Linked DNA regions of Homo sapiens: regions 1, 3, 4, 5, 6 and 7 are each reported to be linked to region 2. The links are microRNA targets in miRTarBase. Many come from high-throughput screens and were not tested one by one. Region 2 holds a microRNA gene; each other region holds the end of a gene's coding sequence. Distances are between the middles of the regions.

Region 1 (4,698 bases), not on the chromosome of region 2:
AAAAACTATGAATGTAATCAATGTTGGAAAACCTTTGGGATAGATAACTCCAGTATGTTACAACTGAATATTCATACTGGTGTGAAACCTTGTAAATATATGGAATATGGGAATACATGTAGTTTTTATAAAGACTTTAATGTATACCAGAAAATTCATAATGAGAAGTTCTATAAATGTAAGGAATACAGAAGGACCTTTGAAAGAGTTGGAAAAGTTACTCCACTTCAAAGAGTTCATGATGGTGAGAAACACTTTGAATGCTCATTCTGTGGGAAATCCTTTAGAGTGCATGCACAACTTACTCGACATCAGAAAATCCATACTGATGAGAAAACTTACAAATGTATGGAATGTGGCAAGGACTTCAGATTTCATTCACAGCTTACCGAACATCAGAGAATTCATACTGGTGAGAAACCCTACAAATGTATGCACTGTGAGAAGGTTTTTAGAATTAGTTCACAGCTCATTGAACATCAGAGAATTCACACTGGTGAGAAACCTTATGCATGTAAGGAATGTGGGAAGGCTTTTGGAGTATGTAGAGAACTTGCTCGTCATCAGAGAATTCATACTGGTAAGAAACCCTATGAATGCAAAGCATGTGGAAAGGTCTTTAGAAATAGTTCATCCCTGACTAGACATCAGAGGATTCATACTGGTGAAAAACCCTATAAATGTAAAGAATGTGAGAAAGCATTTGGAGTAGGTAGTGAACTTACTCGACATGAAAGAATTCACAGTGGTCAAAAACCTTATGAATGTAAGGAGTGTGGAAAGTTCTTTAGACTTACGTCAGCCCTTATTCAACATCAAAGAATTCATAGTGGTGAGAAACCTTATGAATGTAAGGTATGTGGGAAGGCCTTTAGACATAGTTCAGCCCTTACAGAACATCAGAGAATTCATACTGGAGAAAAACCCTATGAATGCAAGGCATGTGGGAAGGCCTTTAGACATAGTTCATCCTTTACCAAACATCAGCGCATTCATACTGATGATAAACCCTATGAATGTAAGGAGTGTGGGAATTCCTTTAGTGTTGTTGGGCATCTTACTTGCCAACCGAAAATTTACACTGGTGAGAAATCATTTGACTGAAATAAATGTATAAAGTGGTTTTTTATTTCTGATTTTCACAGGAAAATACTGTGGATGGATTTAATAGGTAATCAAGGCAATTCAGTATCTCCCTCTCTTAAAGTCTGTTTTTAGACTTCATGGTCATTCTGTATGTAGACGTAGAATTGCTTAGTCATAGCTGATATATACTTATAGCTTTGTTAGATGTTGCCAAATATTTCTCCTTTTTATGTTAAAAAGTTTTTTTCATGAGTTTCTCATCCTGGCATGTTTTGTTTACAATAGCTTTTGATGTTTGTATTATTGCTCTTTTGACTATTCAGTTTTTTAATTGTAATATTACTTCAATATCTTTTCTGCATTGTAATTCTTTGCTTGTGATATCTATACTTACTTATTTTCCTCCACAGAGTTAGCACTCCTAGTCAGATACAATGTATTTTTACAGTCTTACAGCTCATCATTTTGTGTAATGTTGTTTTGTTTTGTTTTAAATGATAGAAGTGTGATCTCCTTTCCATTTTCATCCAATTGTTGACTTCTCTTTAAATTTCTACTTTATTTTGATACAACATATTCCCCCCAAAAAAACACATACATAGGAACTGGTTATATTCCACCATAACACACACACACACACACACACACTATATACATATAGTGTATATACACATATAGTGTATATAGTGTATGTGTGATGTATACTATACATATCACATATACTATATGTGTGTATATAGTGTGTGATGTATATGTGTGTGATGTATACTATATATGCCCACACATGCACTACATAACACACTATATATATATATATATATACACACACACACACACAATATATGTATATATAGTATATACACTATATACTGGGCACTATATATATATAGTGTGTATGTGTGTTATATTGGAATATAACCAGTTCCTTTAAGCAGTCTTTTTACCTGCAGGCTATACCAACCAGGATCCAAATGAAGAGAACTCTTTTAAATATTTGATAAAACTACTCACCCAGTAAGTCTCTTAAAATTTATCATTCTCTTAAAGTATCACTCTAAAATTTGTCAAACACCTTTAAAAGGGGAGAAAAAATGACCACTGAACTTACATTAAGAGAATTTACAACTATATATTAACATGGCTTCAATTGTTTTTTTAATCTATTATCATTATTTTTCTTTTTATTCCCTCTCAGAGTTGACTTACTAGGTTTGGGCATTTCAACAATCAGCAGACCTTCTTTGGTTTAACTAATCTCATTTAACTCCAAAATCATCTCTCTCTTAGGACTGCTGACTTGGTTATGCAGTCAATGAGATCACGAGCCACTGGTTATTGGATTTTTTTTCTTTTTTTTTAGACAGAGTTTTGCTCTTGTTGCCTAGGCTGGAGTGCAGTGGCGCAGTCTTGGCTCACCTCAACCTCTGCCTCCCAGGTTCAGGCTATTCTCCTGCTCAGCCTCCTGATTAGCTGGGATTACAGGCATGCGCCACCATGACCGGCTAATTTTATATTTTTAGTAGAGACGGGATATCTCCGTGTTGGTCAGTCTGGTCTCAAACTCCCGACCTCAGGTGATCCACCCGCCTCAGCCTCCCAAAGTGCTGGGATTACAGGCATGAGCCACCGCACCCAGCCTGGTTATTGGATTTATTTATTTATTTTGAGATAGAGCCTTGCTCTGTCACCAGGCCGGAGTGCAGTGGTGTCATCTCAGATCACTGCAACCTCCACCTCCCAGGTTCAAGCGATTCCCCTGCCTCAGCCTGCCAAGTAGCTGGGATTACAGGCATGCGCCACCATGCCCAGCTAATTGTATTTTAGTAGATATGGAGTTTCACCACGTTGGCCAAGACAGTCTCGATTTCCTGACCTTGTGATCCCCCTGCCTCGGCCTCCCAAAGTGCTGGGATTACAGGCATGAGCCACCACGCCTGTCCGGTTATTTGATTTTTATAAGAAAATTTTACTATTATTTTCAGATAAATTTATGTCACTGTCATTCATTACATTTTAATTTTTGAAACTGATGTCTTTCCCAGAATTTATGTACTCTATAACGGTGTGAATGATTACCAGTATTAAGCCATTTTCTCATCTGATATATTGAGCTATGTTTTATGTAAGTATTGCTTATTCAAGTAGTTTTAAAAGATATGTAATTGGTTGTTGTTTCATGTCCTACACAGTAAGAACAAGAGTATGTTAACCTTTTTGTCAGGATATTTGCTATTTCATATCTTTGAAATAGAGTAGTAGCTCTATTTCTAACTAAATTCTATTTATGTAACAACACAGCTAATTTACTCTTGGATCTCATTCTCCCTTTTTATCCTGAGTTACCATCAGTGCTAATGTTCCTCTTTTGGGTATAGTTCTCCAGGAGAACTTGTCCTATATTTCTTTGTGTGTGTTTTTTTCCTTCCAGCTTAAACAAATTAAAACTAAATATCTAAACCTTGTATACAGACATTAAAATTAGTGAGAGAAACAAAATATCCTTGTGTCTTGGCTTTTACTTTTTGAAGTCATTAACAAATAATAAATTAATGAATAAAATGTGTCCTTATTATGTTTTCCTTGTTTGTAGTTACAGCTATATTTTTATCATATTAACATTTTTCACTTAACTTCGTAATGAACTTATGGCATTTCACACTTACTCGAAACCATAATATAATTATTATTGGTGGTATTACTGTTTGGTTTTTACTATTTTTACTCAAAAACATAAAACTTCACCATTCTTTCCATTTTCATTTGCCCCTTTATTCTTTCTGACTTTTCTCTAAGCCTGCATAGGAGCTTTATTCTCATATTCAATAGGATAGGATATTGCAGTCTCATCCTGTTTTCTGCTGTCCTGCACCATTAAATTTTATATGTCCTTGAAGGAATTCAATTTAATGGCAACTAATATATGTATGTTAGGGACAGGTAAAGAGTCTGTGACTGAGATTTCTGGAGTTATATAACCCCTGCGCCACCCCCCACCCCAACTCCAACTTGCCAGAATTCACCCCTTAACCTGCAATGTGATTGTATTTGGACATAGGGCAATGAGGACATAAGAATGTGATTCTAATTTGATACAAATGGTGATCTTATGAGAAGAGGAAGGAGAGACGTCTCTTCCTATGCTCACACACAAAGGAAAGTCCACATGAGGACACAAGGAGAAGCCAAGAGAGCCCTTACCAGGAATTAAACCTGCTAATCCCTATTTTAATTAGAACAGTGAGAAAATAAATATCTGTATTTAAGCCTCACAGTCTATGGCATTTTCTTACAACACCCTAAGCAAACTAAGACAGTTGTTGGTACTGAGAAGTGGGGTGCTGCTATAACAAAAAACTAAAAATGTGCAAGTCCAAGCTTTGGAACTGGGTGGTGGGCAAATAGGCTAGAAGAATGCTGAGGGTAGATGCTAGAAATATGGATGTAAAAATGATTCTGGGGAGGACAAAAAAAAAAAATAGAACCACTGGAGAGAAAGCTTCCATTTTAAAGAATCCTGTCATGAACGGTATTCATGTTAAAGAAACAATCATGAACAAAATGTTGGTAGAAATATGGACATTTAAGGCCATAATGTTTTAGTCTCAGAAATGA
Region 2 (4,698 bases):
TCAGATATCGCTAGTTCCAAAGGGAACTTTAAACTGTGGTTTCATTTTAAATCGCTCATCTAAGATTCTGTATTAATTGCCCACCATCAAACGCAATTAGCAATTCTTTCATGTGTGGTTTATGTAATGTAATACTTCAATTACATTATTCATTCAGGTTCTGTTTTGGATTATAGGCTGAAAATTCTTTATTAGTGTAGATGTAACCATGCTGCTGGAGTTTTAAAAAATTTACTGATTGAATAATTAATTGGAAAAGAACAAGCTGCAGATTCCTGATGGATTTATGAGACAATTATTCTGTCTTGTGATTATCTACATTATACTATAGAAGCAATGAGGGAAAAAATCTTATTGAAAAGATAGTCATAAATACATGATCAAAAATATCCTCAAAAGTTTATTTTTTAATTAAAAACTCAGACATTTTAGAGTTTAAAAAGTAGTATGTCAGATTCAAAAAGATACATGTCTTTTTTCTTCCTATAAAAATGTTTTTACAGTACTCTACCTTTAAATACAGTACAAAGGAAAAGCAGAAATAGCTTAGCAGAGTTTAAATATAATCTCTACCAAAAAAGTAAATTTTGAATGATATTAATTGATAAGAAATATCGAGACATTACGAGAAAATTAGACAATATAGTCGTCTTCTGTCTCCTCCCCAACTACAAAGCCAAATGTTCGTTTTTTACCTAAAGAAATAGAGGGAGAGGCAAGACTGGCAATCATTAATCATCAGGCTATACAGGGGCCTTATTAAAAAGTATCCCACAAACTTTCATTAAACTAGAGTTACCCAGTTGATTACTCTAAGTTTCTGTGCAAACATCAGCTGAATGAGATAAAGTATATTCTTTTCAACAGTCTGTGTATCTGACTACATTATTAGGTTGAGCTTAAATCTCATATATTTTTGAGGGAAACTAGTCTTAATTTTCTATAATCACCCACTTCTTTTTGTGATAAGCTCTCTAAATTAACATTATGTATAATGTACAATAAAACATATCAATATGTGAAATACATCTTAACTGAAATAACCAAAGAAATAGGACAAAATTGGCTATAAAAATACCATGACCTTTATGACAAAATATTTGATAAAAATCTATTTATATGTATCTTATGATTGATCTGCCTTCTTCAGCACACCACATACATTTCTATTTGTGATTTGTACGTTACTACTTTTCAGGTTGCTCAAAGAGGGTTTCCTTTTAATATCTGTAAACCTATCACAGAAAGAAATTCTCTCTGGCTTCAGCCCCAAGGCAGTGATTTGTGCACTGATAGGTGTACTTTGTTTAGTGTCACCCATGGTGTAGATTGGATAGATTTTGTAAAAGATAGCATTACTTTAAAAGAAACATACAATTTGACAAGCGATTACATTTTACTTTCATTTTATTGCCGTATTTTTCATCACACTCATTGTTTTCTAACTGTCACTAAATTGTTCATTTTCTTAGTCTGTTACATTGGTAGAGCTATTTACTGTTTATAAAGCAATATGCACTTACAGGTTTGGGAGATGGTTTGGGCTCTGAGGGTCGCATGTGCAAGTGGGTCATCATTGCTTGAAGACGTTCGCGTTCTTTAGAAAGCTGTTAAGAAAGAGTGAGATCAGAAGCGTTTTAGAAATGACTGATACAGCTATTTTATTGCAGTGATACATCTTATCATTGAGCTTGCCTCAGAATAATGATTCCTGCATGTAAAAGTCTGCGTCAGGAGGAACTTATCTGGGAGGAAATGCAACTTTAGCTATGGAGGGGGAAAAACTTTTATAGCTTTTCTTATGTTAAAAGGTCAGAGAAAACAAATAACACTTCATCTTTTTGTCAATAAGAGAATTGAGGTCACAGTTGCCTCGACAGTAACAAGTTACTGAAACCATAAATTAGAAGGCCCATGGTGTCTCTTTAAAGTCCTGTGGACACTGTTAGCAATGGACTAGTGCCAACAGCTGTGAAGGGGTGAAGGGTTCTCAAAGCAAAGTGCCTGCCAGGATTGTCTACACACTTCATGCATTCCCACTGAGGTCCAGTTAGTGCCCCCTGCAATCTGCCATCATCAATCTAATTCAATAGAGTGACAGAGACCAGGCAGTGTGAAACGCTGAACTCTGCCACGGAGTCGGCATCTACACTTGCACTGGGTCTCATTACAACTGACGGACCTTACTTTTCCATCAGTCAGACACAGCAGAAGGAAAAAAAAAAAATAGGCGTAATTGGTCACACCGAAGACTGTATCATCAGCTGAACTCTTATGTTTTAGTCTACCTTTTATAAATGGTAAACAGGTTTATAAAAAGCTTTTTAAACTTTAACAGTGATGGTGCTTTTTGTGTTCTTGATTATTTTACAAGTCAAAACAAAATATTTTTAGTAAGCTCTCTGAAAAAAGCAATGACACGAATTTGAAACAAGATGTAATAAAATATGAAGAAAAATCGTATCTTTAAATGAAACAAAGTATTAGTTTCATTGAGAAAAGATCATCTTTAAGATGAAATGTTAGAGAAAGCCTTAAAGGCTTAGTAAAACATAACAAGAGTCAGACTTTGGGTGACATAATTGCTTTCTGATTAGTTCTATGGATTCTATTTACTTCTGGCCAAATTCTGTTTCAACATTAATAGAATTTTTTTTAACTTAAAACAGTCGCATTTGATACAACATGTGTGTATTATCATCTGTGATATAAATTATCTGCCTTTAATCTAGCTAAAGAAAAGTATAAAGATTTTTTTGCAAGTTCTTTAATTAAAATTACACTAGAAAAAGAAAAGAAAAGGTTATCTTTCAGGGTGTTAGTTATATTACAGGCATGATATTGTAAAGACTGGTCATTTGCCACAATATAAAATCTCATGGAAAAAAATCAAGGTTAGCTCATGTAAAAACTCTCTCTGTAATAAAATCATATCTAATTGGGAGTTTGGTCTAACCTGCATTGGGAAAAACTTAGATCTGACTACTTTGGGATATTCAAATTCATATGATGTGGTCTAAAAGTTATAAAAATATAAGTGATAAGTACATTAAACTACAGCAATCCTTCCTGGGTTATCAATAATTGCCACTGTTTAAAACAATCTAAAATATCATGTATCTCCATTAGTATTGAATGGCTAAGACAGTAAAATGCAGGCTGAAAGACCCAGAATCTGCTCAGTACTCAATGTAACACACCAGAAATCTAAGAAGAGTCCATTAAGTGAGCATTTAACAAACCTGTATTTCTAACTGTTGCACCACCTGCATTTGCACTCGACACTGAGCAGTGCTTCGGTCATCCAATGCGTGTTCATTGTTAAGGTGCCTAAACAAACAGAAGACACAAAACAGAATGTAAAGTGATGTCGATCTTAGTGGCATAGGCTACACTTAAAAAGCACTACACTGAAGTCAGATGTTTCTGTGCACTGGGAAAACAGAAAGCCTTGAAACCATACAGATAAAAGTTAAAGCTGCTTACGTGTTGTGTGAAAATTATTTATGTAATGTAAAGAGACTCTTCAAATGGCAGAAAATGTCACTGTCTCTAAGCTTACCTGTTATTACAAAAAATATTTCCCCAGACCATTTACAGAGTTATAGTAGAAGTCATATTATTTATGCCATTTTTTTAAAAAGAACAGCTTACAAATCTATGAACCAAAAGCAATTCTGAAGAGAACAAAGGCAATTTTCTATTTCATTGTTAGAACAGTTTGTTGTTTCTATGATGTATTTTAGTGAGCAATGTTTTATTTCATTGGGATGTGGTATGAATTAGGTAAAGATGGCAAATTATCTCCCGTGGAAAATCAATATTTATGAAGAATGATGATTTGCTGTTAGTAATAAAGAACTTCATTGAAGATTTTGATCATTAGAATAACAAGATTGACATTTCATGTCCAGTGTTCTAACTAGGAGACATTTGTCCTAATCTTATTTTTAAAATGGTGAAAAATAAATCATTCCAAATGATCTCACTCTAACCTTGAATATGCATTAGTCTACCATTATTATTTCTATACGATGTTTAAAGAGATCTCTTTAATGAGTGGTATGTTAATACACCAAAAGTAATTTAGTAAAGCAGCATCTCCAATGAACATGAAAACATTTAATAATATATACTCTGTAATTTGTAATACATAATGTCTTTGATGCTTCCCAAAATTAAAGAAAGTAATCTTCAAGTAATTCAATATCCTTTAGTGTATCTATTTCACCAATGGGCAAAGTAAGGCAACAATTTCAGAGATGTTCTCATCATTGCATATAAGTGAAATGGCATATTGAAAAGAAATTCACAAAATTAAATAAGAATTTATATATTTACCCAAGTGGGCTCAAGTATCATTTAGAATGATATAATAGTCTAAAAAGTTTATAATAGCCCTGGGTATACTGAATTCAACAAATATATTTTTGTATCCATTCAAATTATTTACTTTTATTTCTTGAAGATCACAGTGAGGCAGAAAAAATATAAGACACATACATGTAAAACATATGAAGAGTAATTAAAGTCGTGTTGCTGATAAAAACTAATTTTATTATAAACAAAAGGTTTATTTGTTTATATACCTAGGTTCAACAATCAGAAACCTTTGTTTTGCCTATACCTTGATAAATTAAACCAGTTTGTTTTAATACTTCCTTATTGATCATAACAACAAAACCTCCATGTATCTTG
Region 3 (4,698 bases), 110 Mb from region 2:
GATACTGTAAATCTTGGCTGAGAATGAATAGCAGGGAGAAGGCCTAATCCTCCTGTTTCTTCCTGTTGGGTGGGTTTAAGTGGAGGAGTGTGTTACAGAAAAAAATCCCCTATCACCAATGCCTGGAATGAGACCCCCCCCCGCCCCGCTTGACTGACCCTCAGGATACCACTTGACATGATCACCCTAAATACTGCCTCCTTAAGATGTCTCCAGTCGACTGGGTGTGGTCGCTCATGCCTGTGATCCCAGCACTTTGGGAGGCCGAGGCAGGCAGATCACAAGGTCAGGAGATCGAGGCCATCCGGGCCAACATGGTGAAACCCCATCTCTACTAAAAATACAAAAAATTAGCTGGGAGTGGTGGCTGGCACCTGTAGTCCCAGCTACTTGGGAGGCTGAGGCAGGAGAATCGCTTGAACCCGGAAGGCAGAGTTTGCAGTGAGCCGAGATCGTGCCACTGCACTCCAGTCTGGTGACAGAGCAAGGCTCTGTCCGTCTCAAAAACAAACAAAAAACAAAACGAACAAACAAAAAAATGAATGTCTCCAGTCGTAGCAATGACTGGCTTTTGAAGTGAGGAGAGGATGCTCTAATGGAACCTAAGTGCTCCCATAGGACCGAGCTGCTCTCCTATCTTATGAAGGCACCATGGTGGGCTATCATCTCCTGGGCATACTACAGAGGACCATAAATGTATAGGGAAAAAGATTACAATTCAACTACTCTTTAAGATTTGTTCTGTCTGCCATTACCTTTCCCGCAAAAGAGCCCCATTCACATCCTTAGTTCTCTGGACCCAAACACTGCTCTTATTTCCGTGGCACCTCCGGGCTTGCACTGTAACAAGCCAGCAGCCCATGCTAGTGCATCAATTTGGCAGGAATCATAGACTTTATATTCAATGAAGGGAAAATCAATTTATTTTTGATGTAGTTATCTCTGTGATAGGAAGAAAAAAGCAATATAATTTTAAGAATGTATTTCCTGGTGGGCTTCATTTTAAGATGGGCCAAAAAAATCTCTTAATTTATGAAAACATTGGCATCTTTTAAACTATAAACATGTTACTATGAACACTGACTACATTACTGAAGAGGCAGTTCAGGACCACTTATATACGTACCAGACCCTTTGATGTGCAGGCAATCCATAGGATAAGAAGAAAATGCCAAGCCATTTACAGTTTTCAAATATTTTACTGAAAATGCATATTGTACAATTAATGTATAATGACACACCAGTGTGAGAAACCTCCATAGGTATCATTTCCACAAATATGCTATGAATATAGAGTTCCTACACAAAACTATACAACTTACCAGATGTAATTCCTGTTACGTACCATACTCACAATCGTCTTGAAGAATATGGAGAAAAAGTGCTGAGTGACAAAAACAGGAGCCATGTGTGATTTTAATAAATGGAAAACACGGCATTTCAGCTCAGTGGTAAAGCAGTAAACCAATCAGATGCTTAGCTATCAAGTAATCATGTGAGAGGAAACAGAATTAGATCCTTACCTCATACTATATGTTGTCAGCTAACACTGTAGCAGTGGTATATGAATCACATAAATTACCTCCAACAAAATGTATTCCATGTATTAGAAAAAAGGAGGTATGCCTAACATTGTGTCACGTTCCAAAGGTGAATTTTGCAGGTCAACGATATGACAGTTCAAGGAAGCATACATTTTATTGTTTCAAGTTGATTTCTAATGCTCAAACTATTTACGTCAAAATTTACAGAAAATAAATCTCTATATCAACAGCTTAAAATAAATGACTTACCTAAAGTCCACTTCTGAACTGCATAACTCCTATAAAGGTTTCAGTCTGTACCAATTAGAATGTCTTCAGTTATTAGTAATAGAGCATCCTAAATCAACTGGCTTAAAAATAAGTTTAGTCTCTCACAAAAGAAACAGTCCAAAGGAGGAGTGGCTACAAGGCTGCTTGGTTTGGTGGCTCAAAGACATCATCCAGGTCTCAGGGTCTTTCAGTATTTCTGCTCAGGCCATGATTAAACTATAATCCATTGCTGAAAGATGGTTACCAGGCACCACATCCAGACAAGGTACTGTTCACCACAAGATTCCACTTCCCTTTGCTTGAATCCTTGGGCCTTTGAGAAAACCTTTTCCAGAAGTAGTCTGTCAGGTATATCCTTTGTTTTATGTCTAGAATTGGGCCCTGTGACCACTGTAAATCAACTGCTGGCAACGAGAAGGGGAGTGTCACTGGTTAAAACTAATCAGGATTTATCTCACTTCCTTTTGAGGATAAATGGATAACCAAACTCCGCCAGCAGAGTAAGGGAGTGACTAAGAAAGTCACTCGGCAATGTCTGCCACAGACCCTTGTTAGAATGTGTTCTTAATTCATTAACAGGAAGGAGTAGAGCACAAGGTTTAAAACCAGTACGACATCAAATGAAAACACAGTGAATTCCTATGTTAGAAAGTCACTCGGCAATGTCTGCCACAGACCCTTGTTAGAATGTGTTCTTAATTCATTAACAGGAAGGAGTAGAGCACAAGGTTTAAAACCAGTACGACATCAAATGAAAACACAGTGAATTCCTATGTTACACAGCATTGTGCTCTGCACTGTTATGTAAGTGTCCAAATAAAAAACAGTAGAAAAAAAAATAGATACAAATGGGAATATTTTAAGTATATCTTAAAACTGTATAGAGTGCAATGATTTTCTCACTCTTGGAAAACTGGCATTATTAATTTTAAATTACCAAGCAAAGTTTTCTATCTATTTTATACATGGATATTTATCTCTCTGGCTGACTCAGATACAGTTGAAAACATTATAAAAGCATTGGTCCTTTAGAGCTGATATTGTTCATTAAGAATGATCAATGCATTAAATCCTAGAGAAGAGTGCAAGAAAAAGTATACTTTATACCTATCAAATGATATTAATGTAGTGCTGTTTAGAATACTCTTACTATATGAATTACAAAATAAGGATACAACGTTTTTTCAAACATGATTCGAAGTGAACATACAATTCCTGTAATGTACTGTAATAAAAACAACCCTCTCCCCAAACATAAGTCCTATGTTCTTTGGGAACTGCTTACATGAGTTTAAGGTTACCGACTTAACTAGCTATCCTGATGACTTTACAGTTTCTATTTACACAAGAAGTATGTTTATTCACAGCAGGAATCTTCTATTTCTTTTTTTTTTTTCAAGTTTGCTATTGTATCAGAAACATATCTTTTAGTATTAACAGTTTCCAAAGGATTATGTCTTCCACATTCCTTATACTGATAGATTTCCCCTTGGCTATGATTTCCCTGATATGCAAAACAGTTCCAATCCATGGTGACATGTATATACATTCTTAATATTTATAAATTTTTACTTGTCTATAGTCTAGTATTGTTATACCATGTGGTCTTGTTATAATCATGGTTTCCATTCTGTGAGTCTTCAGATTATGAGTCCAACACACAAGGGGATGTCCACACTAACCTGTGTGAACTCTCTGATGTACAAGGTGTTTGACTTCAGGCAGGAGTTTCTGATTCACTATACTGAAAGGGTTCTCTGATATAAAATGAGGTCTGACTTCAGAGAAGCCTTCCCACATCTATTACATTCATATTGCCTCTCCTATGAATTCTCTGATGGCTGTTGAATGCTGATTTGTGGTAGAATTTTTTTCCACATTCAGTACACTCATAGGGTTTCTCTCCTGAATGAGTTCTATAATGTACAGTGAGGTATGACATCCGAGAGAAGGCTTTTCCACACTCATTACATTCAAAGGGTTTCTCTCCTGAATGAATTCGATGATGTATAGTGAGATAGGACATCTGAGAGAAGCACTTCCCACATTCATAACATTCGTAGGCTTTCTCTCCTGTGTGTGTTCTCTGATGTCGATTAAGGGCTGAATTCTGGCAGAAGGTTTTCCCACATTCACTACATTCATAGGGCTTCTCTCCTGAATGAATTCTATGATGTATAGTGAGGTATGACATCTGAGAGAAGAATTTTCCACATATATAGCATTCATAGGGCTTCTCTCCTTTGTGTATTCTCCGATGTCTACAAAGGGCTGAGTTCTGGTAGAAGGTTTTCCCACATTCACTACATTCATAGGGTTTTACTCCTGAATGAGTTCTATGATGGATAGTGAGGTATGACAACTGGGAGAATAACTTTCCACATTCATTACATTCGTAAGGTTTCTCTCCTGTGTGCACTCTCTGATGTCTCATGAGGGCTGAATTCAGGTAGAAGGTTTTTCCACATTCATTACATTCATAGGGTTTCTCTCCTGAATGAGTTCTATAATGTACAGTGAGATATGACAACCGAGAGAAGAATTTTCCACACTCATTACATTCATACGGTTTCTCTCCTGTGTGGGTCCTCAGGTGGGTCGTGAGAGTAGACTTGCGGCAGAAGCATTTCCCACATTCACTACACTTGTAGAGTTTCACACCTGTGTGAATTTTCTGATGGTCATTAAGTGCTGACTTCTGCGAGAAGGTTTTCCCACAGTCATGACAAACATAAGGTCTCTCTCCTGAATGTGTTCTCTGATGTTGTGTGAGGTGTGTCTTCTGGCAAAAGGATTTTCCACAATAACTACATTCATAGGGCTTCTCTCCTGAGTGAGTTCTCTGATGCTGAATGAGGTGTAACTTCTGGTAAAAGTTCTTCCC
Region 4 (4,446 bases), not on the chromosome of region 2:
GCAGCCCTAACAACAATGCAGCTCTTCTCCAAGCAAAATCCTTCAAGACAAGAGGTTACCAAACTCCAGCAGCAGGTTAAAACAAATGGTGCTGGCGTGACTGTTCTCAGGCGTGAAATTTCTGAGCTTCGCACCAAAGTGCAAGAACAGCAAAAACAGCTTCAAGACCAGGACCAGAAACTGCTAGAGCAGACCCAGATCATAGGTGAACAAAATGCACGGTTGGCAGAGCTAGAACGCAAACTACGAGAAGTAATGGAAAGTGCTGTAGGAAATTCCTCAGGGTCCGGGCAGAATGAGGAGTCTCCTCGGAAACGAAAAAAGGCCACGGAAGCCATAGACTCTCTTAGGAAATCTAAACGTCTTCGGAATAGAAAGTAAATTGGAATGTGGTTCTAGTTCCAGAGGAAGACACAGCTTAGTAGCTTAAGCAGTTATGCATATCAGGATACTGTGAGCAACATGGTGTCCCTTAAGCTTCTAGGCTTTCAGAACACAACTTAAACTTGAACTCTTATGGTTGGGACATTCTTTTCCTGCTTCTCCTGATTGAACTGATGCACAGAATCTTTTTACTTTGCAATAGATTTGTACTAACCAGACCTGTTCTATCATGTTTTGAGGAGTTAACTTTTTTCTGTGCAGATAATGTTGAAAGTAAGTTAATTTGTTTCTGCATATATGCACATACATACGTAAGGATCTTAAACCCAGTCTTGACAGACTAGAAGTTAAGTTTAATACAGAAAATGTCCTGTTCACTTGAAAGAAAAGACCTACTTTTTAAATGGACACTATCTTGGTTCTTTTTTTTTTAAGTCATCTTTTTGTTATAAGTGACCTTTGTCTGGAATGTCTGAAAAGTAGTTAATGCTTTTTGGTATTGAAGTAATGGGTAACTAAAATGGACTTCCATAGTATTGACTGTAGAAGGAGCCTCTACAATATTGACTATATATTTTTATAAACTACTGGCAAGGAACTTACCCAGCTGTTATACATGTTTTCAGTTCTCTTTGGGGGCCATGTCCTACATTTGCATGGATGGATGCATGCATTGCCTAGTCAACTCACTTAAAAAGCTCTTGCACTGGTATTGATCTTGAACCTCTATACTTCTCCACTTTTTAGAGCGGCGTCTTAGTTTATTTAAACGCTTAACATCTTCCACCGCAACAGCTTGCCTCTAGAGGGGGAATTGTTCATCCATTTGTCCTCCAGTTTTATAGGAACAAGAGACTATTAAAGCCCATTGCTTTATCTGCTCTCTGTAGGGTTCAGGTACACTGGCTAAGGCAGAACCCCAAATTTCAAGGCTCTTTCTATCAATATTGGACCTCTGGGAGCTAATACTCCTCTTTGCTCACCACCATGTGATCATTGATCAGATGTGGTGAGTGAGTAGGGGACTCGACTTGCGGGATGCAGTTTTGCCATTGCAGCAAAGTTCATTGAGGAAAATTGTACCATGAAAAAGCATTTTGATTATTTCATTTCTGGAGGATGACCTTGAGGGAAGCTTTTTAATATTAGTTTCAAGCTTTCCTTACCCTACAACTTTAAACAAAAGCTTTAATTTTGTTTGCACTCCTATTTTGAGCTTGTAACTGGAAAAGCATGTCTTGCACTGTTCAACCTCCTGAGTGGTCGCTTTAACAACCTCCAAATTGTGTACAGTGGTTATTTTCCCCAGTTGTATAGTTTTGAGACATTCAATTATCACTGTCTTAGTTGTATTTTAATTTACTAAATTATGTAGCTATTTGACTGTTAAGTTCTTTTAAACAACTGTTTCCTTGGGCTTCAGTTATTTAAAGTAAATTTAGGTGTAATATAGAAAACTGTCCCTTTCCAGGTGGGAGCTTAACACCTGTATAAAACCTAAGGTTTTGGTAAGTACCTTAGTTGAATAAAAGCACAAGGTTATCACCTTTTTTATCCGTCCACCGTGACATGGTTATGCATCCTTTAGATTAACCTCACCAAATGAAGCTTTTTCTATCCATTTTTAATATTGTCCTTACATAATATTGTCCTTAGATTTTGATCAATTCTATGTCTGACTTTGAAATTCCATTTACAATGTAGTATGTTTTCAATGAAAAACCATAAAGTAACATCCAAGTGTTTCATGGTTTGTTGGGAAGGTAATTTTAAAATAAAACAATTTCCAAAAAACATTTGTCAGCCAAGGTCATCCATAAAAGTCCCCGTCTGGAACTCGTTTTCTCAGCACTTCTCATTTTTATAATCATAGTATTTAGCCATATTAGCATATCTTTAGAGGAGGCCTGGTGGAATACCCGGGGCCTCTACTAGTCTGCTTTTCCGGTCATAGGAAGACTTTTTTTTTTACGTATCAAAGCATGTGTTTACAGATTTACAGAGTGTGATCCGTATGCATCAAAGGGATACAGCCCCAGACTGTTTCTTTAATGGTCATTCATGAACTATTAAAAATTTCCTGAATTTCTTTTTAAACTACATCTAGATAGCCTAAACATCTATGTAGTCTTCCATTAGTTAACATGTGTATAGGGCTTTCATAATAAGTAGTCACACTGTTACAAGGTAAATTTTCTATTACAAAATCCAAATTTCTATTGCATACACTTATAATCATCTATTCATAAAGCTAATTCATTGTACTTGTTAATGCATGAATGTTCCATGCAGTAGGAGAATAAAGCACTACAGTTCGGTTGTTCAAATCTTAAATCTTAGGCTATTTAGCTAAAACATGTTAGGATATTGCCTTCACCACTTGTTAGGACAGTTATTTGATAGCCATTATGCTTACCTATGGATAGCATAATGGTATTTAAGGTTCAACAAACCGCAGATTATTATGATCAGCTAGAACTGACATATGTTACAAGAAAACTGTAAATTAACCTCCTGAGAGAACCATTCTGCCCTGCATTTTAAGTCAGGTATTTAAATACTGCGTGTTGTTAATATTGCGTTGTCTTAGTGCAACATTTCTTAAAGTATTCCCGTTATCTTCCTTGGCTGTTTTTCAGAGGAGACGTCTCCATGTTAATGGGTCCTTCCCACATAGAAATGTATTCTGGTACAGCGCTGCACACATGGATAGCAATGTGAAAAGGCATGCCTAAGAGACAGAAACGGCTGACCTTACCCCACCCCAGCCGGATCCTCTGCTTATCTCCCACATGCACTTGGCTTAACTGGTTTTCACAGATTCTGAGGTTATAGAACCTGTTGTTTTTCAAACTCCTGTACAGAGCCTGGAAATAATGGAGCAAACGCAAATGTATTGAGAGTCATTATACTTTAAAATAGTTTTAAAGACTATTGGGGTACCATCAGGTCAAAAGCCACTGATTTGGGAAGCAATTTTTTTGCAAAACACTTTTTTTGGAGTACTGAACTTTACAGGGGCTTGCCTTAATCTCTATTTAGTAGTTTCAAGATATATGCGCAATTATTCTACGTGTTAAAAATGTTAAAATATTCTATGTAGCCCCAAAGGTGGGTAAAACAGTATAAGTAATGCCTAAATTAATAAGCTAAAAGGTGTCACTACAGCTGGATTTTTGAGAGAAAATGGACATAAAACTAGGCTATGTGTAATAAAAATAATGGCACCTTAAGATTGCACTATTTTATGCATTATTTTATATGCCATTTCATAGCCTGCACTTTAATCTCCAAAGAAACGATGTATGATGTCCCACTTGTTCCTTATTCTTAATAAACTTTTTCCTGAGACAGGGCACTTAATTCTATTTTACTATACTGAATTAGTTTCTTGGAGGTAGATTCATTTCTTGAGTTCTCTGTTTCCTTAGCCATAATATTTTCTAGGATCCGGGAACTCCCTATATTGTCTATTTCCAACATTATATAATTTTAATTTAATGTAATGTAAATCTCATACTTGGTGATCAGCACATTCTTATATCCTGCTCTAGCAATGAGTACCCATTTGTTACACTTACCAAACTCTCTAAAAACATATACTGTGAGTAAGATTTGAAGCCAGGAATAAAAGGCAGTCTGAAAGAAAACGTCCTATACGATGCAGTTGTTTGGAAATGGCTGATTTCTGATATGAAACCCAACTTGATACACTGTTTGGTTCTTTGACTTGGGATCTATCTGAATTGCTTTCACTAGTACACAAAAGGTTAAGTTAAAACTACTTTAAACTTGTATAGCCTGCCATCTGAGGTGAATTATTTTCAAAAAATACTAAATCTATGAACTGAGACTAGCAATTAGTTGGCTGCTCCCTACCATGATTTTACTTTTAATAGCAATACAGTTATATTGGTGATAAATATGACAGGCTTAAGTACTGCTGTCCTTTTGCATCTTCCTAAGCATCTTGGTTAAATTTCTGAAGTTTAAAAATTAGATCCAGATTTCTTCTGTTGTGTCTGAAGAGAACCATGACATTTAGAAGTATATTGGTAATCT
Region 5 (3,339 bases), not on the chromosome of region 2:
CATCCATTTCCTTGCCTTGCCCAGCTTCTAGAGGCCACCTGCATTCCTGAGTTCATGGCTCCCTTCTGTCTTCAAAGCCAACAACAGTGGGTGAGTCACTCTCACATTGTTTCACTTTGACCTCTTCTTTTATTTTTCTGAGACAGGATCTTGCTCTGTTGCCCAGGCTGAAGTGCAGTGACATGATTATGGCTCACTGCACCCTTGACCTCCAGGGCTCAAATGATCCTTCCATCTCAGCCTCCCAAGTAGCTGGGACTACAGGCATGTAGTACCATGCTCGGCTAATTTTTCTATTTTTTGTAAAGATGGGGTCTCGCTGTTGTCCAGGCTAGTCTCCAACTCCTGCGCTCAAGTGATCCTCCTGCCTTGGCCTCCCAAAATGGTGGGATTACAGACATGAGCCACCACACCCTGCCCACTCTGACCCTTTCTGCCTCCTGCTTCCACTCTTATAAACGTTTGCGATGACATTGGACCCACCTGGATAAACCAGGACACTCTCCCTATTTTAAGGTCAGCAGATTAACTTCCTGAATTCCATCTGCAACTTTTTTTTCTTTTTTTTTTTTTTTTGAGACAGGGTTTCAGTCTGTTGCCCAGGCTGGGGTACAGTGGAGCAATCATGGCTCACTGCAGCCTTAACAACAACTGGGCTCAAGTGATCCTTCTGCTTCAGCCTCCTGAGTAGCTGGGACTACAGGCACGTGCCACAACGCCCTTCAAATTTTATTTTTTGTAGAGATGGTGTTTCCCTATGTTGCTCAGGGAAGTCTTGAACTCCTGGGCTCAAGTGATCCTCCCGCTTTGGCCTCCAAAAGTGCTGGGATTACAGGCGTGAGCCACCGCACCTGGCCCACAGGCAGCTTAATTCCCTTTTGCCATGTAACCCACATATTCACAGCTTCTGGGGATTGTGATGTGGACATTGGGGGAGGCACTGTTCTGCCTCCCACACCCACTTTACCTTCAGGGTGAGGTCTCGGCCTGGCCTATCCTTTCATGGTATCTACCTGTAATCATGGGGAAAAGCCTTTAAAAATTAGGCAAGGGAATTAAAATCATCACGATAAGTAAAAGCAGGCAAGGAACTTGCTGGAGGAGAACAGAGATAGAATAAGGCAGAAGTGTCTATGTATGGGGGGGGGGAGTCAAAAGGGGTGGTGGAGGTGATTGAGGAATAAACAGATATGAATTGCTTATTTAAGGCTTGAACCTGGTGTCATGAGAGAAATGGTGGTGGTCTCAAAAGGGGCCATGGGGTGGGGCCACAGAAGAGACACGGCCCCATCTGCATGTTGACCATACTCAGGGTGGTGAGGAAACCAGCGCTGTCCTGCAGCTGGGGGAACCTCAGTGGTCTTTGGGGATGAGCCCTGAACCTCAAGTCAAGAAGTGTGAGTTCTAGTCCAGGTTTCAGCCACGGTGATTGAGTCATGCACGTGGGCCTCTGACCCCTCATCAGTAAACCGGGGGCTGGTCTAGATGACCCCAAGGCTCTCACATTCATTTCTGCACTCTTGGTCTCTGCTGGGCTTCTGGGACATCGGTTAGTATGGCCTTTTGTTAGGCACATGCCAGGACTGGGGCTGTGCAGGTGATGTGGAAGGGTTCCTGATTCCCTGTTCCCACTGGAGCCTGCTCTACAGAAGGAACCCCTTGGATGTTGCTGTCCCGGGCTTCAGCACTCAGAACTCCTTGCTCTTTGTGGCCATCCCAGCTCTCTCTGTCACGTGAGCCCTTGTCCCCAGCTGAATCACTATGATGAGTTGTATGAGCTTTGACAACAGGTGGGGGATGACATGCAGTCCCCCTGACCCAAAGGAGACTGAAACGAAGCACCTCTTGGCCAGGCCACCACGGTGCCCCACAGCCGCTTCACCGGCTGTCCCTTGTCATGGCCACGGGCCCAGACCTAGTTCCTCCTCAGTGACGGGGGGTTGGGGCCCCTACCTGCCCTCAGAGCCCTACCACCAGTGTTGGGCATTGGGGCTAGGCTGGAGCTGGGCTCTGAGCCCAGAGCTGGTGGTGGTTTCCAGGCCTGTGGGAGGGTGACAGTGAGGCTGTGCTGCCGCTATCACCTCCGGAGAGAGCGGTGCATGGGAGGTGGAAAGCACTGGACCTGGACTGTGGCTCAGTTGAGGGACACATGGCATGTACTTTTACCACACAAGTTTATTTAAATAAAAGTGAACACATATGCAGGCTGGTGCCCGAGGGGCAGGGGGTGGGGAGGGCAGGTGGGAAGCAGACAGACAATGGGGTCCAGGCAGAGTTTGTGTGGTGAACCAGGCTGCTGGAGGGAGTGGCTGGGGGCCTCAGGGCAGCGCTGGGATTCAGTGCTGGGGCAGGGGGCCTTGGGTGGGTGAGCCTGGTGCCAGGAGGTCATTTCCATCCCTCACATGCCCCCCTCCCTTTCCCTGACCCCCTGGGCCTACAGCACTACCTCCTCAGCCCCCTCTCCCTCTCCTGACATCAGCCTTCCCCTTAGCTACTGAGAAGCCAAAAGACAAAATAAATTAGAATGGGTGAGTCCTACCCCAGCCCCCAGCCATGGGGAAGGGAAGCCAAGCCAGGCACACTGCGCCGGAGCCCGTGCTGTCAGCTCTGGAAAAGAACAGGTAAAGTGCAAGGAGAATCCAGTAAGTAAAAATATACCAATGACTTTGTCAAATACACAGCTGCTGGCTGTCAGGAGCAGGTGGCTGGCTGGGGCGGGTGGCAGCAGCACCCTGGGAAGTGTTGGGCGACACAGCAGAGAGACAACGGAAATAAATAGGGTGGGTGTGGACAGGGGTCCCACCAACTGGGCCAGCACCACCCAGGACGGGCTTCTGCCTGCTTTCCGGCCCCATGCCCCCAAGCCCCCCTCGCCTGGCTCCCCAGTGCTGCAGCACTGACACAAAGCACCCGGCCGACCGTGTTAGGAAAGGACTATAATGTGGGAGTGGAGCAGGGAGGGAGGCACGGGGAAGCTGTGCAGTCAGCCAGGGCTGCGGCCGCCCTCAGTACTCGTCCTGGTCTTCTTGTTGATGCTCTTCAATCTCATCGTCCTCAGGGGGTGCGAATCCTTCCTGGAGGGTGGGAGAGAGAGGAAAGTGGTGGGCCAGGCAGGCCAGGCAGGGCTTCTCAGGTTCTGTAAGTAGCTGAAGAGCAAGGGGTCAGGAGTCCAGGAGCCCTGCTAATGGGTGACCCTGGGCTAGTGACTTCACCTCTCTCTCATCAGTAAATGTTCTCCACGGTCCCTTCTGGCCCTATCGCGCTTCTGGTCTTAGGGCCAGGCCAGACTGGGGAGGGCCCAATGGGCCTGGGAGTGCTCACCTCTGTGGCATAGAGGAT
Region 6 (4,632 bases), not on the chromosome of region 2:
CAACATGGTATATCATAGAACATTTTACTTTGCCAGTCAGTTTTTTTAATCACCACTAGTCATTTTTTTCAATTTTTGCAGTTGCTGGGTGTTATATTTGGGCTAAGTGAAGTTTAATTCTCATGCCTTGAATATTGCAAGAGAGTATTTCATTGCAAGAAATAATGTTGGAGATAAAATATTTGTGTAATGTTTCCAAGTATGTTGTTGGAATGTTTCAAAAATCAATGGAATTTCAGTATAGCAGGCCTTTGGAAATGAGCCTGTAATAGTTAATGGTGAGGATAAGAAATTATTATGTAGAGCTTAATATTCTTAAGCAGACTGATTCCCAAGCATGAGTAGAATTTTATCAAGTTTATTTGTTTTAAAATCAATACAAGTTGATTTCATTGAAATAAACAAATTGGGAAAGAAATACTTATTTCAGACCTCATTTTGAGAATGCTGGCTTCTCTAATAGAAGTTAACCAATTGAAAGGAGTGTGGGGAGGTGGGGGTGGGAAGAGAGATTTTTTTTCCCTTAGCAAACCAGTCATTTCTGAGCTTAGCATTTTTATTGCTCAATTTAACATTGCCTGAGAACATAATTGCATTTGAGTTTATAGCTGTTCTAACAATGTTTTGATGTACAGAGAACAGAAATGTATTTCTCTAGGAATTAGGTACTTCATCGGTCTAGAATTGACTTAAATTGTTTAGTAAACTTTAAATAATATTCACCTCTTAAGTGTGTTTAAGGTGCTTTGCAAATGGTGAAATGGTGCAAATGGTGCAAGTGGTGAAATAGTGAAACTGATGGATTTGAGCAGGAAATATATATCCCGAATGGGCAGAATATAGGTTAATGTGAGGGTAGAAATTGGAGTGGGTGACTTTATACCATGGAGAATTCAGATTGAGGACATCCTTATGTGTATGTGTGTCTTAGTAGTGGTTAATCTTCCACTTCAAACTTTGAGAGTCTGTTTATGGATTGGGTACATTTTGCGGAAATTAGATTGACCCCCAAATGTACAGAGGACCCTGTCTTTTAAAATCAAATAACTGAGGCTTTTCCTCATCAATGAGAAGTTAGAACAGCAAATTATCTCACAAAAAAATTATATTTTGGGAGAAGGTAGGTCAAAAATTCTAGAATCATTTTCTCTTTAATCCAGCTTAATCCTTTTGCTTATCCAAAATAACATGGCATGACTTTATTACTATTCCAATATGCTACCACAGAAGGTTTAGGACTTATTGAAATAAAATGATGACGGAAGAGTGACCTTTCAAAAGTAATATGTATGTAATACCACAGAACCGTGGATTTCAAAAATAGTGAATGTGAAGGAAACAAAAAACCTTCCAACTACATTTTTTTTGGCATCAGAATTTGTTTTCTACCATAGGGCTATTCACATACTGAATTTCGTTTTCCAAAAACCAAAAGACCTGAAAAGACCACTATTAAACACACACATTCTTGCTCATTCTACTCCCCAGGCCTTTGCTGTCCAGAATGGTAGCCACTAGCCACATGTGTCTACATTTAAATTAATTTAAATAAAATTAAAAGTGCAACTCAGTTGCAGTAACTATATTTCAGGTGCTCAGTAGTCACATGAGGCCACATGACAGTGCATATGTGGTATGTCTCCATCGCTGCAGAAAGTTCTTTCGGACAGCACTCGCTAGACTAGTAGTGGGGATGCCAAATAAGAGAGACTTGATTCCCTGCTGGCTTTACGAAGAGTTCCTGGGAGGGAAGCTGAAGCTTAGGACTTAGTTCCTTAAAAAATAATGTACTCATAAGAAATTCCTTCTATCACTGTTGTTACTGCCTTTTTGATGATTTGAAGTCATTGAACTTTGAAACAGCTCTTTTACCAACAAAGAAATACACACCTGCCATGAGAGGGTTTTCAGCCTTTTTTCCCCATTGTTGTTTTCTTTCAACAGCTGCTGGGCATGCTGTGTGCTTGCATCGTGTTGTGCAGAAGGAGTAGAGATCCTGCTTACGAGCTCCTCATCACTGGCGGAACCTATGCATAGTTGACAACTCAAGCCTGAGCTTTTTGGTCTTGTTCTGATTTGGAAGGTGAATTGAGCAGGTCTGCTGCTGTTGGCCTCTGGAGTTCATTTAGTTAAAGCACATGTACACTGGTGTTGGACAGAGCAGCTTGGCTTTTCATGTGCCCACCTACTTACCTACTACCTGCGACTTTCTTTTTCCTTGTTCTAGCTGACTCTTCATGCCCCTAAGATTTTAAGTACGATGGTGAACGTTCTAATTTCAGAACCAATTGCGAGTCATGTAGTGTGGTAGAATTAAAGGAGGACACGAGCCTGCTTCTGTTACCTCCAAGTGGTAACAGGACTGATGCCGAAATGTCACCAGGTCCTTTCAGTCTTCACAGTGGAGAACTCTTGGCCAAAGGTTTTTGCGGGGAGGAGGAGGAAACCAGCTTTCTGGTTAAGGTTAACACCAGATGGTGCCCCTCATTGGTGTCCTTTTAAAAAATATTTACTGTAGTCCAATAAGATAGCAGCTGTACAAAATGACTAAAATAGATTGTAGGATCATATGGCGTATATCTTGGTTCATCTTCAAAATCAGAGACTGAGCTTTGAAACTAGTGGTTTTTAATCAAAGTTGGCTTTATAGGAGGAGTATAATGTATGCACTACTGTTTTAAAAGAATTAGTGTGAGTGTGTTTTTGTATGAATGAGCCCATTCATGGTAAGTCTTAAGCTTGTTGGAAATAATGTACCCATGTAGACTAGCAAAATAGTATGTAGATGTGATCTCAGTTGTAAATAGAAAAATCTAATTCAATAAACTCTGTATCAGCCCCCAACATATTATTTTTCATTATTTGGGGGATATTTCAGTTCCAGAGCAGCAGTATCATGTTTTCTTTGTTGGTGCTGTCTATAGTTCATCATGGTTTACGTGTGTTTTCGTTATAGCTGTTGCCAGATTCTAAAGGGCTTGATATTCAAAAAACCACAGATGCTTTCAGTCCAGTATATCCTAGAAATATAGAGCTCTACTTTGTGCAATGCACTGGGGATACAGTGGCGATACTGTCCTTGTCTTCAAGGAGTTCGGAGTCCTAGTATAGGAGACATACATAGGAGAAGATAATTTTCACACTGCAGTGGTTGTAGTAATAGAATGGGAGTCCAAAGGGGAGTTCCGGAGAGGTCAGGGGTGACTTCCTGGAGGAGATGCCCAAGCTTGGAGGCTGGATAGGCTTTGTTGAAAGATGGTACACAAGAGTGTGAAACAAAATTGTGTGTGCAGGGAGCTTAAAATACAAGGCTGGGGAAAGAAGTTGGAGAAGCAGGAAAGCCCAGGCCCTCTAGTGTCTTACGGAACATCCTGTGGAGGTGAGAGCTGACTTGTAGGTGGAAGCAGCTCTTTGGAGGTTTGATTTGGAAGGTGAACTGAGAAGAAGGTGGTGATGCAAGCCGGCCGTGCTGAAGCCAGGATGAATTGGTGTGACTGGGCTTCAGTTAGGCTGGCATAGCAGTTGAGAGAGCTTAGCAGTGGGCAGCAGGGCACTGTTGGGGGCGGTGGTGAGCGGTGGATTCTGGCTGTTTGGAGGCAGGACAGTGGTGGAATTCGATCATTGATTGGACGTGGGACAGAGAAGGGAGAAGAGAAGACTCATCTAGGATGAGTCCCAGGTTTCTGGCTCAGTCAACTGGGGAAACAAAGTCACAGAGCTAGGGAGTAGTTAGAGAACACATCTGGGGGTGTGACTCATGGTCAGTTTTGGGCTCGTCAGTTTTGAGATGCCCAAATATCATGCAGATCTGTCCCACCTGAAAATGGAGAAGACACGGGAAAGGAGAGGAGTAAAAACTAACTCCTTTTCACAAAGTGGAAGTTACCAGAATGTGATTTCAGAGGCCCCGGGGGATTTATCATGTGACTACTGACCCATCCCACCTCTTGCCCCTGCCTGTTGCACAGTGGGCAAGAATGTTTGTGACCTTTCACTACCACCACCTCCCCCGAGCATGGTCCCCCCAGTTTTCAATATGAACCATCCTGTGGGTACCCTGTCACAGGCTGGCCCTGAGGTGAGCAATATTTGGACTGTGATGTTGGTTGTTCTCCACTCTTTCTACAGGACAGAACAGGGCCTCTAGAGTGGGAAATGGCTTTGGGAAATATGCCAAGCAGTAGCCTTGTTCTTCAACTTGCCCAAGAGGATAATTCTCCACACCCTTCCTGTACTCAGTCCTCAGTTTGCCTGGTGAGAGAGCAGCCTCCTCCCGTGTGCTCTGCCAGCTGGACCCAGACTGGCCATATTACCAGTGAGACCAAAAAGATGGAGGTGGGGAGGTAGCTCTGAGGTCTGGGAAACCATTCCAGCTCCTGCCAGTTTTAACTTGTGTTTAATTCCTGGCACAGTTGTCCTGGAAATGCCTTTTTCTCTTGCCTGGGAACCACTAGAAGGGGATGTTGTCTGTGTTGGCCAGGGCCATGCAAATTCAACATCTTGTTTCTGCCCTTCCCCCGTGTAGCTGAGGCTAGGTGTTGGCATTACCCAGTGCTTGTTCTTCAGAGAGCAAAAGCACTGCTCGTCATGTCTGAAATTTAGTGAGTGAGCTCACCCACTAGGCTGGTGTTT
Region 7 (4,698 bases), not on the chromosome of region 2:
CCACTTTTGAAATAATTCTCTTTCAGAGTAAAAAATGTTCCATTTATTCTTTTGTTTTCCTACAATTCTTAGCAGAGTTCTTTTAATACAAAAATAGGAAATGAATTAATCACTGCTCTAATAGGAGAATTCTTGAATCTATATTCAATTGGACAAGTCATTAAATGCCTATGGCTATGTACAAAGTTTAAACATTATAATGCTTCCCCTACCATCCCCACTATTTTATAATCGGTTTTTTTCAAACCTCTTCTCTTCTACCATAAGCCAATAAATCATAGCTCTGGAGGTTCTATAAAACTTATCTTGGCTTTCTTTCCAATGATGTTCTTATGCTGGATTGTATACTTACACACTGTTTTAAACTTTTTGTTAAAGAGTTAAAAAATCCTAATAAACACCTATGTGGGCTTCTATAATATTACTAAGTCATGTCAACATCTAGCACAGTAAGTATATTTTGCAAGAAGGTAACAAATGTAAAAATCACCAGTGACACTGAACTTTATATTTAATAATTACAGTAAGAATTTTTTGGTAGATTTTATTCACACACATTTTAAAAATCATGAACAAAGTCATTAATTCTGAACTCAAGTAACAGTCAAAAATATTTTAATTTAAATTAAGGCACTACATACACATTTCTTTAAAGCACACTGATGTTATTTTATTTACACACTATTTTAAGAATTAACAATAAATACACATTTTCCATCTCCTCCTTGTCCTTCATTTATAACTTTATATGTTAACAAGGAAGTAAAACCCTCCAAATAAAAGGAATTAAATGCAATAATCCATAAAGCTTATCAGATATGGGCACAAGAAGGAGACACCCAAAAACAATGTAAAAACATTTTAATCCTTTAATGTTACAAGAATTTATCTATAAATTCTTATGCCATTCCTAGTGGAATAATAATATAAAACCTATACACAAACATTGAAATATGTTTTATTCTATTGCTATTTACCAGAAGAATTGCATATAAATAACAGCAGCAGAACTGTCCCTATGTTATACATGAATGTACTTATTCTGAATTCACTGACTGAATTAAAAACACTTAACTCAAACTTTTCCTATTACCTTGGGGTATTGTTTTCACAAACAAGTAAATGTTTCCTAGAGCCAAATACTTTCTACACCCAGAAAATAGAGCAGCATGTTAGTTATTTAACAAAATACACACCAAAACCTTAATGTGAAAGGCTAGTTTTACTATAAGATTTTTCTCAGTGTACTAAAGGAGTCAATGGCTTTAACAGTGATAATTTTTTAAAAGATACAAATGAATTAACACATAGTTCAATATAATATATGTTTTATTAAATAAATACTATTCTTCTTGTCCCATCAACATATACTTTTTAAATTTTTGCTTAATTTACAATTCGAGTTAATATTTTGAGAACGTAAGGAAAGACAAATAGGTAAATGTCTTGTTGAAAGGGTTAAGATACTGACAGGACATACCTTCCTGTTCCATCCTATATAAAATCCACTCATGAGTTGGATGCCAAGTATAGATTTCTGAAACTCATAACCACCAATCACGATAATGCAATCATTAAAACTCACACCATTGCAAGGACCAAGTATAAAATATTCTGCTACTATTTTAGATACTTCAAAAACATCCACTACTTTAAATGAAAAGCTTTAAATGTGTCAATGCTATTTGCTTTTTAATGGAAATTAAAGTAGAATTTTTCTATTATTCTGTTTCGATCAACTATTAACCTTTAGGATAATTGTTTTATGTGAAAAAAATTAGAAATTTTTTTAAAGCAAAATTAGTACTATTGGTTTTTATTTATTTTACTGTTCTTAATACAGTTAACTTATGACCAACAGCATGGATTATTTATACAGGGTTTGAAAATGCCTCTCAACAACCACAAATACAATAGGCAGCAAATACCAGGCTCAAGAAATTAGCAGTGACTCAATAGGACGCACTGTATGTTTGATGACTGGCACCACTGTTGTTCTTTACCATCACAGATAATCAATATTTAACTGGGCTGCATATTTATTATACTTTTATATTTGTAAAACAGTTACCAAGTTTATTTTATATTGTCAAAACTTTAAAGATCATACTATTAACTGCTTGTCTCACGTACTGATGAATGGTTCTTGAGCCCAATTTTTCCCCTACTAAATATAATCTAGTCTGTCACAACCTAGTTTCTTCATATTAATTTTGATTACTAGAAGGTACCAGCTAGCAAAGGCAGGATGACAGTTCTTCACAATAAACCCTTGGCTCTGAACAAACATGTTAAACAGAGGGATTATTTCTGTGATGCAAATACTGGAGAAAAAAGTGGAGGTAGCACTAAGGCTATTCTGCCACTTAACATATGAATGGTGTGAAAGACCAAAAGATACTAAATTTTGTTTAAAATTTCTTAACTATTCTATAGCCTAAAAAGTAAGGCATAAAGTCCCAAAGATAAATACAAAAATCTCCATTCCTCATTCTGTCCCAGTCAAATTGAGATTTGTATTTGGGTCATAAATTTTTCTGTAGCATTTGGATACCTCAGGTTACAACAAACATGAGAGAGTTAAATGATAAAAGTTAATGAAATTAAGTTATGATTTTAACTTGTGAGTTAGGAGAAAGTAAACAAATATGAAGTGCAAAAATAACCTTTCCTGAGATCTGTGTGCTTCAGGAATGTGGAAGCCTGGCCACAGTCCATCTCTGACCTCCTTATATAGTAAATCACATAATGTCCACACAACCACACACAAACACACTTGCACAGGCACACGCAAACAACTAAGTAACTTACATAAAGGCATTAAGCATAGATAGAGAGAAGAGCACTTGTCTCTCTTTTCTTCTGAATTTTTTAACAATAATCTTTAAGACTAACAGCTTAAGACATAATGGTGACAACTCAGGCTTTTATCAAATGGTCTTTGCTTTTTTTTTCAAATAGGTTTCCTTAAAATATTTCTTCATTTGCTATATCTTTTCTGTCTGCTCCAATTTTATTTACCATCACAGAGCATTTCCTACCTCAAGAGGGTACTTGAGATACAAACTAATTAAAGGTAAATATAAAAATATAGGAAGCTTTTCCTCCCTAATATACAAAATTCACAAATTGCATAAAGATTTCTGTTGTTTTCTTTACAAATATATAAATTTATTAGAAAAACATGCCTACTAAATTTTGGTATATTTTCATTTAAAGATGTATCACATCTTCATCGCAAAATACAAGCAGAGGAAGTATTTTTCTCAAAAGCCATTTTTAGTATTTCTAGTTAGGATTGATGTTACCTAATGATTTCCTACCACAAGATGTTACCTAATGATTTACTAACAATTTTACTATGGTCAGCGTTATCTTATTAGCAAATGCACCGAAACAAAACACAAGGAAAACAAAGTAATAATTTTAACATGCTTAGTCTAAGTTCTTTGTCTTTCAAAGTATTCTTTTTCATAGTTACAACACTATTCTTTGGATGTATTCTTAGTTTTGTGATTAATCAAAGACACTTTGTATAAGCCCTAGCACATGTCACCCAATTAAAGGATCATCATCATCTTCTTGTAGCTGAAGTCGAGAAAATGGACGAGGTACAGAAAGTCTATTCTGCATGATTATTATGAGGCATGTTAGCATGGTTAACACCAAGAGTGAACCGATAACAATCGCGATGGCTTCTGGGAGATTAATGCACCACTGGTCAACTAACAAGCACTTAGTATGACCAAAGGTCCCATTATTGGGATGTGGTTTTAATCCCAGGATGTGGCACATCATTGGATAAATATCCACAATGTTAATTGTGCTATGCTTGTAGCCTTTGTGAAATGCAGGTCCGTGGGCAGCTAGAAATGGATGCATACTAGGCAAAGAATTATCATAACCATGGTCACCTACTGAAAAAGAACAAAACAACATCAGTCAATAAGATCAGACTTTTTAGGACAAAATAACTTGCTTCTAGTATATAAACATTCAATTCTTTCAGAAAGGGACTAGAAATAAAAATTTCTATTTCTTCAACTCAGCTATGTTCCATATTTCCCTCTCTCTCTCTCTCTCTCACATACACACACAAACACACACATATGCCCCTTTTCCCAACTGGTCATACCCTCAGACTTTACCACCACTTGTCAACCTGATGTACTTATCTTTCAGCCCGAGTACCAATTACTTCACTTGTCAATCTCAGCACTGTTTGCAAAAGCTCACTGCAAGCAGTACCAGTTATAAAGACAGTGGTCAGGCTGAGGGTTCTGTGTAACTGGGAAGAACAGAAGTGAGTAAGGCCAACAAATGGAGAAAAAGAAAATCTGCAGCCTAACCTATCTCAATTGTTACAGGAGGGATCTTGCGTTGAATGTGTTGTCTAATCTGGTGACTCTATCCCAGTAAAAGTTAGACTTAAAGAAAAGCATATGATAGTCCCTAATACAACTCCAATAATAAATTCCCAATTTTTAGCTTTATTTTAACAAATGTTGCCATTTAACGTACACCCGTTGTATTTAATAAGCTCCCACTTTCATATTAAGTACGGGTGACTGGGTGATGAGTATACTGATATTTGTTATATTATTCTTTGGTGGTATGTTTGAAATATTTCATCATAAAAATAACCAATATGACAAAAAGCAGAATATATAAAGATTTCAATAATATTAAAACACACAC

The links. Region 2 holds the annotated microRNA hsa-miR-3666 (CAGUGCAAGUGUAGAUGCCGA, at 2,140-2,160, opposite strand). A microRNA usually pairs through its seed, bases 2 to 8, with sites in the 3' UTR of a target mRNA and lowers its output. Matches are read on the target gene's strand: a 7mer-m8 pairs with bases 2 to 8, a 7mer-A1 pairs with bases 2 to 7 and ends in A, and an 8mer does both.
Region 1: miRTarBase lists ZNF529 as a target of hsa-miR-3666. Seed matches in the 3' UTR shown: 7mer-A1 at 1,872-1,878.
Region 3: the mRNA of ZNF12 is a reported target of hsa-miR-3666. Seed matches in the 3' UTR shown: 7mer-m8 at 2,896-2,902 and 7mer-m8 at 2,699-2,705.
Region 4: miRTarBase lists FBXO28 as a target of hsa-miR-3666. Seed matches in the 3' UTR shown: 7mer-m8 at 1,086-1,092, 7mer-m8 at 1,583-1,589, 7mer-m8 at 1,623-1,629 and 8mer at 3,620-3,627.
Region 5: the mRNA of MAPRE3 is a reported target of hsa-miR-3666. Seed matches in the 3' UTR shown: 7mer-m8 at 2,626-2,632.
Region 6: miRTarBase lists TSPAN3 as a target of hsa-miR-3666. Seed matches in the 3' UTR shown: 7mer-A1 at 2,666-2,672.
Region 7: the mRNA of ENPP4 is a reported target of hsa-miR-3666. Seed matches in the 3' UTR shown: 7mer-m8 at 2,653-2,659.

Annotation. Positions count from the first base shown.
Region 1 is chr19:36,543,272-36,547,969 of GRCh38, reverse strand. ZNF529 (zinc finger protein 529) reads left to right here. Exons shown (of 5, transcript NM_020951.5): 5 at 1-4,357. The coding sequence ends at 1,104. Among named protein-coding and RNA genes, the nearest start is that of ZNF260, 17 kb to the right of the region's middle.
Region 2 is chr7:114,650,835-114,655,532 of GRCh38, reverse strand. It overlaps MIR3666 (microRNA 3666), which reads right to left and starts at 2,188; the gene lies at 2,078-2,188. FOXP2 (forkhead box P2) reads right to left here. Exons shown (of 17, transcript NM_014491.4): 9 at 3,243-3,330; 10 at 1,524-1,607. RefSeq lists an enhancer at 1-479.
Region 3 is chr7:6,687,254-6,691,951 of GRCh38, forward strand. It overlaps ZNF12 (zinc finger protein 12), which reads right to left. Exons shown (of 5, transcript NM_016265.4): 5 at 1,180-4,698. The coding sequence ends at 3,595. Among named protein-coding and RNA genes, the nearest start is that of ZNF12, 17 kb to the right of the region's middle.
Region 4 is chr1:224,157,366-224,161,811 of GRCh38, forward strand. FBXO28 (F-box protein 28) reads left to right here. Exons shown (of 5, transcript NM_015176.4): 5 at 1-4,446. The coding sequence ends at 381. Among named protein-coding and RNA genes, the nearest start is that of DEGS1, 24 kb to the right of the region's middle. RefSeq lists an enhancer at 2,982-3,276 and a silencer at 2,982-3,276.
Region 5 is chr2:27,026,015-27,029,353 of GRCh38, reverse strand. MAPRE3 (microtubule associated protein RP/EB family member 3) reads right to left here. Exons shown (of 7, transcript NM_012326.4): 6 at 3,322-3,339; 7 at 2,135-3,074. The coding sequence ends at 3,006. Among named protein-coding and RNA genes, the nearest start is that of TMEM214, 5.3 kb to the left of the region's middle.
Region 6 is chr15:77,044,240-77,048,871 of GRCh38, reverse strand. It overlaps TSPAN3 (tetraspanin 3), which reads left to right. Exons shown (of 7, transcript NM_005724.6): 7 at 1,945-4,632. The coding sequence ends at 2,037. Among named protein-coding and RNA genes, the nearest start is that of TSPAN3, 25 kb to the left of the region's middle. RefSeq lists an enhancer at 4,535-4,632.
Region 7 is chr6:46,142,495-46,147,192 of GRCh38, reverse strand. It overlaps ENPP4 (ectonucleotide pyrophosphatase/phosphodiesterase 4), which reads right to left. Exons shown (of 4, transcript NM_014936.5): 4 at 505-3,917. The coding sequence ends at 3,553. Among named protein-coding and RNA genes, the nearest start is that of ENPP4, 15 kb to the right of the region's middle.